2 linked regions of the Homo sapiens genome follow. The gene in region 1 interacts genetically with each later gene. Each region holds a gene or a part of one and is shown in the gene's direction. Other genes may lie near its edges.

What was found. A genetic interaction does not mean that the proteins touch.
Region 2: changes in SIRT7 (region 1) and RB1 together harm fitness more than expected from each alone (negative genetic interaction), as found in Homo sapiens cells (one large-scale study listed by BioGRID).

What each region holds. Positions count from the first base shown.
Region 1 is NC_000017.11:81,911,337-81,915,374, reverse strand, and holds the end of SIRT7 (NAD-dependent protein deacetylase sirtuin-7), read left to right. Parts: intron 1-672; coding exon 673-771; intron 772-844; coding exon 845-1,081; intron 1,082-1,207; coding exon 1,208-1,288; intron 1,289-1,494; coding exon 1,495-1,601; intron 1,602-2,760; coding exon 2,761-2,959; 3' UTR 2,960-3,436; downstream 3,437-4,038. Other genes in the region: PCYT2 (ethanolamine-phosphate cytidylyltransferase), read left to right, coding at 4,020-4,038. UniProt on the Homo sapiens protein: NAD-dependent protein-lysine deacylase that can act both as a deacetylase or deacylase (desuccinylase, depropionylase, deglutarylase and dedecanoylase), depending on the context. Specifically mediates deacetylation of histone H3 at 'Lys-18' (H3K18Ac).
Region 2 is NC_000013.11:48,474,652-48,478,451, forward strand, and holds part of RB1 (retinoblastoma-associated protein), read left to right. Parts: intron 1-1,798; exon of another isoform or gene 1,799-1,871; intron 1,872-2,049; coding exon 2,050-2,192; intron 2,193-2,703; coding exon 2,704-2,753; intron 2,754-3,800. UniProt on the Homo sapiens protein: Tumor suppressor that is a key regulator of the G1/S transition of the cell cycle. The hypophosphorylated form binds transcription regulators of the E2F family, preventing transcription of E2F-responsive genes.

The sequences.
Region 1 (4,038 bases):
CAACTAACTGCACCCGCCCTCTGTCTGCCAGTTGACTCCCATGATGAGCACCCACCAAGCGGGTTAGGCCGCGGGTTTGATCCTCCTGTGCTTGACTCTCCAGGACAGAAGGGGAGCTCCCCCTCTGAACCATCCCATCCGCAGCCAGCCTCAGCCTCAGAGCTGCTGGTGGCCTTTCCCCTTTGTGATTCCCTTGCATTTTTCTGTGGACCTCAGAAGCCATCCTAGTCACAGGGGAGGCTTATAGGACATCTCTGGGGACCTTCTGCTGAACACCCTCAACCAATGGGGTGTAGTGGTTGATCTGCCTAGGTCCCCAGGGACCTGAAATGTCATGACCCAAGAGAGCATGGATCTGGGGCAGAGTGGCCCTTGCCAAACCCCGAGCCACTTCCCAACCTTGCCGGGACGGTGCAACCTCTTGCCCTCCCAGCCACTCCAGGTGCATCAGGGCTGGAGGAAGGACAGCCCCTCCCCACCACAGGCCCTCTTGACTCCTGGTGGTTGGACCTGTTGTGTGTTTTACTTTCTAAGGCTCTCTGGGGGGACGGAGCTGCCCCTGGTTTTGGGAGCCATCGGCGGGGCTCAGAACAGCCTCGCTGTGGCCGGGTACTGACCTCCCCACCACCACTGGCAGCCATCCCTCCCCTTGCCACCCGTTCTGCCTTCCAGGTGCAGCATGTGGTGTCTCAGAACTGTGACGGGCTCCACCTGAGGAGTGGGCTGCCGCGCACGGCCATCTCCGAGCTCCACGGGAACATGTACATTGAAGTGAGCAGTCCTGCAGGGACCCAGGGTCTCCATGGGCAGGCGGGTCCCACTCACTGTGCCCTCTTGCCTCTAGGTCTGTACCTCCTGCGTTCCCAACAGGGAGTACGTGCGGGTGTTCGATGTGACGGAGCGCACTGCCCTCCACAGACACCAGACAGGCCGGACCTGCCACAAGTGTGGGACCCAGCTGCGGGACACCATTGTGCACTTTGGGGAGAGGGGGACGTTGGGGCAGCCTTTGAACTGGGAAGCGGCGACCGAGGCTGCCAGCAGAGCAGACACCATCCTGTGTCTAGGGTCCAGCCTGAAGGTACGTGCCGATGACACAATGAGTGAACCGAGCCCCTGCCCGCCCGAGGGTGTCCAGCTCTGCGGCCCAGCACTGTACAGACTTGTCCCTTGTGTGTGTGCGGTGTCTGTCTGTCTGCTTCCACAGGTTCTAAAGAAGTACCCACGCCTCTGGTGCATGACCAAGCCCCCTAGCCGGCGGCCGAAGCTTTACATCGTGAACCTGCAGGTAACTCGGGTGCTGAGAGCCACGTCCTTAGATCTGGGTCTTAGAACGCACAGCCAGAGACACCCCACACCCATGCACCAGGGCGGTCTGATAGGGCCCCCGTGGGTGCTCAGGGAGCACCGACTGAGCCCGTAGGGGCCAAGGCTGACAGGCCACCGGGAAGGGTTGGGCTGCTGTTACTCTCACTCGGCTTTCCCTGTCCTCAGTGGACCCCGAAGGATGACTGGGCTGCCCTGAAGCTACATGGGAAGTGTGATGACGTCATGCGGCTCCTCATGGCCGAGCTGGGCTTGGAGATCCCCGCCTATAGCAGGTGAGTGAGCCGCTGCAGCAGCCTGCTTCCCCGCACCTCTGTGTGCTGGGCCTTGTCTGTCTTCTCTCGTGAGCTGAGTGTGGAGGAAGCTCTGAGGTGTTTGCAGTGGTGCCTGAGGCATGACTGAAGCGTGGTGGTCTCCAGAGGGCCTGACCTCGGTGGTTGGCGGAGACCCTGCGTGTGCCACTCCTGCCCTGGCTGATGTGGCACACACAATCCCCGCGGGGAGAGGGATTCTGCCCGCGTGCTCCTGCTCCAGGCCTCCCCGTGGAGCTCTCCGAGATGCCTGGTGGGAAGCATCTGGAGGGGACGAGCACTCGGCAGCTCTGGTCAGACAGAATCTGTGTGCTTGGTTTTGGGAGTTGGCGTACTTTGGGAAAGCTTAAACAAACTGTGCCTTAATACAGAATTTGTGATAATTTAGACTTGGTGTATGTATTGAGTAAAAAGTTTACACTCTCTTTCTCTGTGAATTTTCAGGGTCTTATAGGGGAAATCAATAACTTCTTTTAATCAAAGGGTTCAAGAAATTAAGGATCCCTTCACCTTCTGGGCCTGGCACTTCTTGTATGTTATGTGTGTGGTGTTCTGTGATGTGGGCTATCGTGTACTGTATTTTTTTTTTACATTAACTTAGCTCATTTTCCTTATCAGTGCGTATCTGTATCTTAAGTTATGATCTGTGGTTCTGCATCTCCGTCAGACACATGCTTTCTTCACGGGGTCGTCTGTAGGCCACGCCTCCCTAGTCAGCTGGGAAGGGGGAGAGGGTCTGGTCCACCTGCCCCAGCGGTACAAGTGGAAGGTGGGGCCCAGAGTTGCTAGTGACTCATCCCTGGAGACGGAGGCAGCCCTGGGGCCACTGCTGCCCCACCCTGTGTGTGCACGCCGCTCAGTGGTGGACAAGGACACGGAGTTTTGAGGAGACCGAGCTAGTGTGGGTGCCGACCTTTGAGTCACCACCTAAGAGGTGACCTCTCCCACATCCGTTCTGCAGCTTGGTAACAATGAAGCTGCCGCCAACCAGAGCCCCGCCGCAGTTGACACGGGAGGGAAGGGGATGGGAAGGCAGGGACCGCAGACAGCTTTCCCGAGCTGGGGCAGGTGTGACTGCGAGAGGCTCCCAGGCCCGCCTGATGCCGCTTTCCCTTTTTGGCAGGTGGCAGGATCCCATTTTCTCACTGGCGACTCCCCTGCGTGCTGGTGAAGAAGGCAGCCACAGTCGGAAGTCGCTGTGCAGAAGCAGAGAGGAGGCCCCGCCTGGGGACCGGGGTGCACCGCTTAGCTCGGCCCCCATCCTAGGGGGCTGGTTTGGCAGGGGCTGCACAAAACGCACAAAAAGGAAGAAAGTGACGTAATCACGTGCTCGATGAAGAACAGTTGGCACTTTGCAGATGGCCAGTGTCACGGTGAAGGCTGGGTTGCCCCCACGGGTCTAGGGAGAACGAACTCTTTGGGGATGACATTTTCACCGTGACATTTTTAGCCATTTGTCCTTGAGGAAGCCCCTTGCACTGCTGCGGTTGTACCCTGATACGGCCTGGCCATCGAGGACACCTGCCCATCCGGCCTCTGTGTCAAGAGGTGGCAGCCGCACCTTTCTGTGAGAACGGAACTCGGGTTATTTCAGCCCCGGCCTGCAGAGTGGAAGCGCCCAGCGGCCTTTCCTCGCTCACCAGGCCAGTCTCAGGGCCTCACCGTATTTCTACTACTACTTAATGAAAAAGTGTGAACTTTATAGAATCCTCTCTGTACTGGATGTGCGGCAGAGGGGTGGCTCCGAGCCTCGGCTCTATGCAGACCTTTTTATTTCTATTAAACGTTTCTGCACTGGCTTCCGGTGTCCCCGAGTGGTCGGCGCGGGCTCCCCGGGCTCAGGTCTGCCGCCTGGCAGCTCGGTCGTGGCTTAAAACTCCCTTGGTTGGACAGGGGACAACTGTAGATTATTGTGCCAAAAAATAAGAAAAAAAACTCCCCTGGTTGGGACAGCGCCCCGTGGAGGTTCCCGGAGGTGGCGGCGGTGGGACGGTCCCCACGCCGCACTGCCCCGCCAGCCGAGCGCCAGGTGTGGGCGGTGCGGAGAGGCCAGGTGTGGGTCGGGGGGCGGGGCTCGGAAAGCGCGGCACACGCCATTGGCTGTGCGTTTGGAGGGGGCGGGACTCTGTCAGGGGCTCACGCCATTGGCCGTGCGCGGAGGTGCGGTGGGGCGCGGCCTTCGGGGGGTGGGGCTCGGGGCGGAGGGCGGGAGGCGGGGCGGGGGAGGCGGGGGCGGGGCTCGGGCCGAGCGGCGCACGCCATTGGCCGTGCGCAGCGGGTGAGGCCCGCGTGACGGCCGCTGAGCGTGCGCCTGGCGGGGCGGGCGGCGGCGCTCGGAGTCGCCGGGAGCTGCCAGGCTGTCCGCGCCGCCGCTGCGGGGCCATGATCCGGAACGGGCGCG
Region 2 (3,800 bases), on another chromosome or scaffold:
GGATATTCTTTTTCTGGTACACTGATTAGGAATTGTTTGCATGAGATCCTGCCTCAGTGAAAGTGGCAGAGCTTCATTCTAGGAGATCCAAGGGAAAGCTTTGCTTTGAAACATTTATTCTAGGCTGCAAATCCACAACCCTAGTTGGCCTTCCATTAAAGTCACTAATTCAGCAGTCCCATATTCAATATGCATTACTGTTAATATGTTGCACCATCTCCATTCCCCTGAGAGCTTATATTTTTAATTTTTAAATTTTTATTTTTAGAGACAGTGTCTCACTCTGTCACCTACTTATTATAACCTCAAACTCCTCGGCCCAAGCAGTCCTCTCACCTTAGCCTCCCAAGTTGCCAGGACTACAGGCATGCACCACCATGTCCAGCTAATTTTTAAATTTTTTGTAGAGACAGGGTTTTCTATGTTGGCCAGATTGGTATTGAACTCCTGGCTTCCACGATACCCCGTCTCAGCCTCCCAAAGAACTGGGATTACAGATGTGAGCCACTGCACCTGGCCAGAGAGCTTATATTCTTATAGGAATGGGAAGACTGCCTATGTTATGTGTTGCTACATAATACATTACCCCCAAACTTAGTGACTTAAAACAAACGCTTATTATCTCCATTTCTGTGGGTCAATAATCTAGGCATGACTTAGCTGGGCCAGAGTTTCTCCAAAGTCTGTGATCAAGGTGTCAGTTGGGCTGGGCCTGCAGTCATCTCAAGGCTCCACTAGAGGAGCATTCACTGGCAGACTTATTCAAATGGCTGTTGGCTGATCCTCGATGGCTATTGGCCCCTCTATTGGTTTCTTGCCCTTGGGCCCCTCCATAGTACTGCTTGCTATTCACAACATGGCAGCTTGCTTTGCCCAGAGCAGGGACTCTGAGGGAGGCAGGGAAATAAAGAGCAAGAGAGAGGTCACAGTCTTATTGTAATCTAATTCTGGAAATGACAGCCCATTACTTTTGGCATATTATTTTGGTTAGAAGCAAGACAACAGTAGATCTAGCCCACACACGAGGGGAGGAGGATCACACAAGGAGGTGAATACCAGGAGGTGGGGTCATTGGGAGCCATCTGAGAGGCTGCCCACCACACTGCCTCAAGTAACTAGGGAGAGGTAAAAGTTTATATGCCAGATGACCAAATATTAAAATGTGTGTTACAAATAGTTCACGATGGGCTCAGCTGTCAGACTTTACAAAGGAGCTATGGGACCTTATAAGGACAGTTGGAACTGGCTAGGTATCACATAGTGGTCTTCAAACATTTTTGCTTGCCATAACCTCTAAAATAATTGGGAAAAAGTTGAATGTACTTCCATATCTTAAAGCTGATAATTTAAAATATTATACATTTAATAGCAGCACGGGATTTAGTTTTTGTTAAATTGTATATGTGCTCCAAATAGATTTACCATCAAAACCTGTTTTGAATTTAATATTGGGAGAATTCGCTAGTTTAATTTTTGGAAAATAAAGTATAATTGGCAAAGCTAATCCTCACTGTTGAATCTATCCGTCAAATCAGATATAATTTCTATCAGAAAGTCTATATGACTTGTCAACATAATACCCATAAAGTGAATCAAAAATTATTATTCATTGAACACATCATCTCTTATCAAATTCTTGTGACCTTCCTTCTGGTTGTATAATAGCCTAAAAAACAAAAAAAGGACAAAAGCAAGTTTCCAGAAAGCTGTTCTGACTTGCCTACTTCTGAAAAGTAGTCCTGTATGGTGGGTTCTGAAAATGAGGAACCAGGACTTGCAGAGTAGGCAGTTGCTGGAGGAAGAATGTGAGCTGCATGGGAAAAGACAGGAGGATTTACAAAGAGTGGGTGTTTAATTGGGGATGGAATTAGGTAGTTATTCTGATTTTTAGATTTTTCATATCTTTTATTTGGTCCAATGAAGCAGAAAATTTAAATGAAGTTATTACCTTTGCCTGATTTTTGACACACCTCAAACTATAACTTGAGGTTGCTAACTATGAAACACTGGCATTTAATGATTTAAAGTAAAGAATTCTGTAATTTGTAGACTTCTGAGAAGTTCCAGAAAATAAATCAGATGGTATGTAACAGCGACCGTGTGCTCAAAAGAAGTGCTGAAGGAAGCAACCCTCCTAAACCACTGAAAAAACTACGCTTTGATATTGAAGGATCAGATGAAGCAGATGGAAGGTAGGAACCAGTTTTGAATGTTTTCCAGTAGCCGAGATGGTCATCTGGGGAATCCAGAGTCTCAGCACTGCTCCTGGCTTATACCAATTTCTTTCATGCCAAGTTTATTTGGAAGTTGTGAGAATGGCTCAAAATAATAGATATGAGTGTAGTGCAAAGTTAAAAACATCTTACAAATTGCATACCAACATTCAGTGAAGATATCTAATAAACCCTGATCTTTTTTACAAAGCTATTGATAAAATTTTGTTATTCTTAACATTAAATTTAAAAATGTTTACTCTTGAAAAATATTAACCACTGTATTTTGTGAGAACCACTGAAAAAATACATAGCATCATAAATTTGTGACATTTATGTTTTAGATGGTTAGTTTTTAAATTTTAAAATTAAAAGCTACTCACTAAAATAATAGCATAAAGTAAGTCATCGAAAGCATCATAGTTACTGGAAATTTGAGTTTTCCATTTATAAATACACATGAAATGTTTTGCATTTTTTTAATCTGCAGTAAACATCTCCCAGGAGAGTCCAAATTTCAGCAGAAACTGGCAGAAATGAGTAAGTACTTTTTTCACCTTGTGTAAATGAAATAAACAATTGTTTACACTGCAAGAAGTCTTTTCGTTATATAAAAGAATGTATAATTTCTTCAGTTGGCAGGTTTGTTTATGCATTTAAAATATAATTCAATCAAGGTTATTTATCTACAAACATTTGTGGATTAAATGTATGATGTAAAATGAAGGTCATTTTTACCCTTTCTATGATCTTTCATGCAGGAAGACTAAGAAGTGAAACATTGCTTGACCACATTCAACACAAATGGCTACAGTTAGAAAATACTTTAGCAGAACTACAAAGAGGAGCTATTTGGGAGTGTTAGATATAGGGAAAAGTTTTATAAACCTAGCATATGTAAACATCATCACCCTTATTTAAGGAATAACCTTTGATTCTACCATTTTTAAACTTTCCTTATTTGCAAATCTTAAAACAATTTCAAACAAAAGTTTCCATTACTGGAAATCAGAATTTTAATAAAGAACACTTATGTCATTTTCCAAGTTATACAGAGTGATATCATGTTAGGGTAAGTGGAATTCTATTCAAAACTACTCTGAGACTAGACAAAAAAAATAATCCAAGGATAGTAGATGGAAAGCACATTAGGAAAGAGATAAATGTTCACTAACTACTATTGGGTTGTCTTAGGTAGTTATGGTAGTGAGTGTAACATTTCCCAGTATCTGCTGCCAGATCCATTGATAGGAAAAGGAACTGGGATTTTGAAAGAAGACAAATATTCAGGAGATAGGTGTTAAAACAATCATTCCTAGGTCACAGGACACACTAATGAGAACAATACCAATTAAAATGAGAGGCTTTCTTTTAATACATCTTTGTAGATACTAACTTTGAAAATAAGATATTTAAAAGGATGCTTTTTTTCTATGTATTTTTTTAAAGTGTAATTAAAACTAAATAACTAAAACAAAATTTTCTAGTTATAAATGAATCTCTTTTTGGATTTTATGTCAACTTACATATTCCTATTTTAACTCTTAAATAGTTGCATCTTTTCCCCTCAGTACATGAAAATAGACA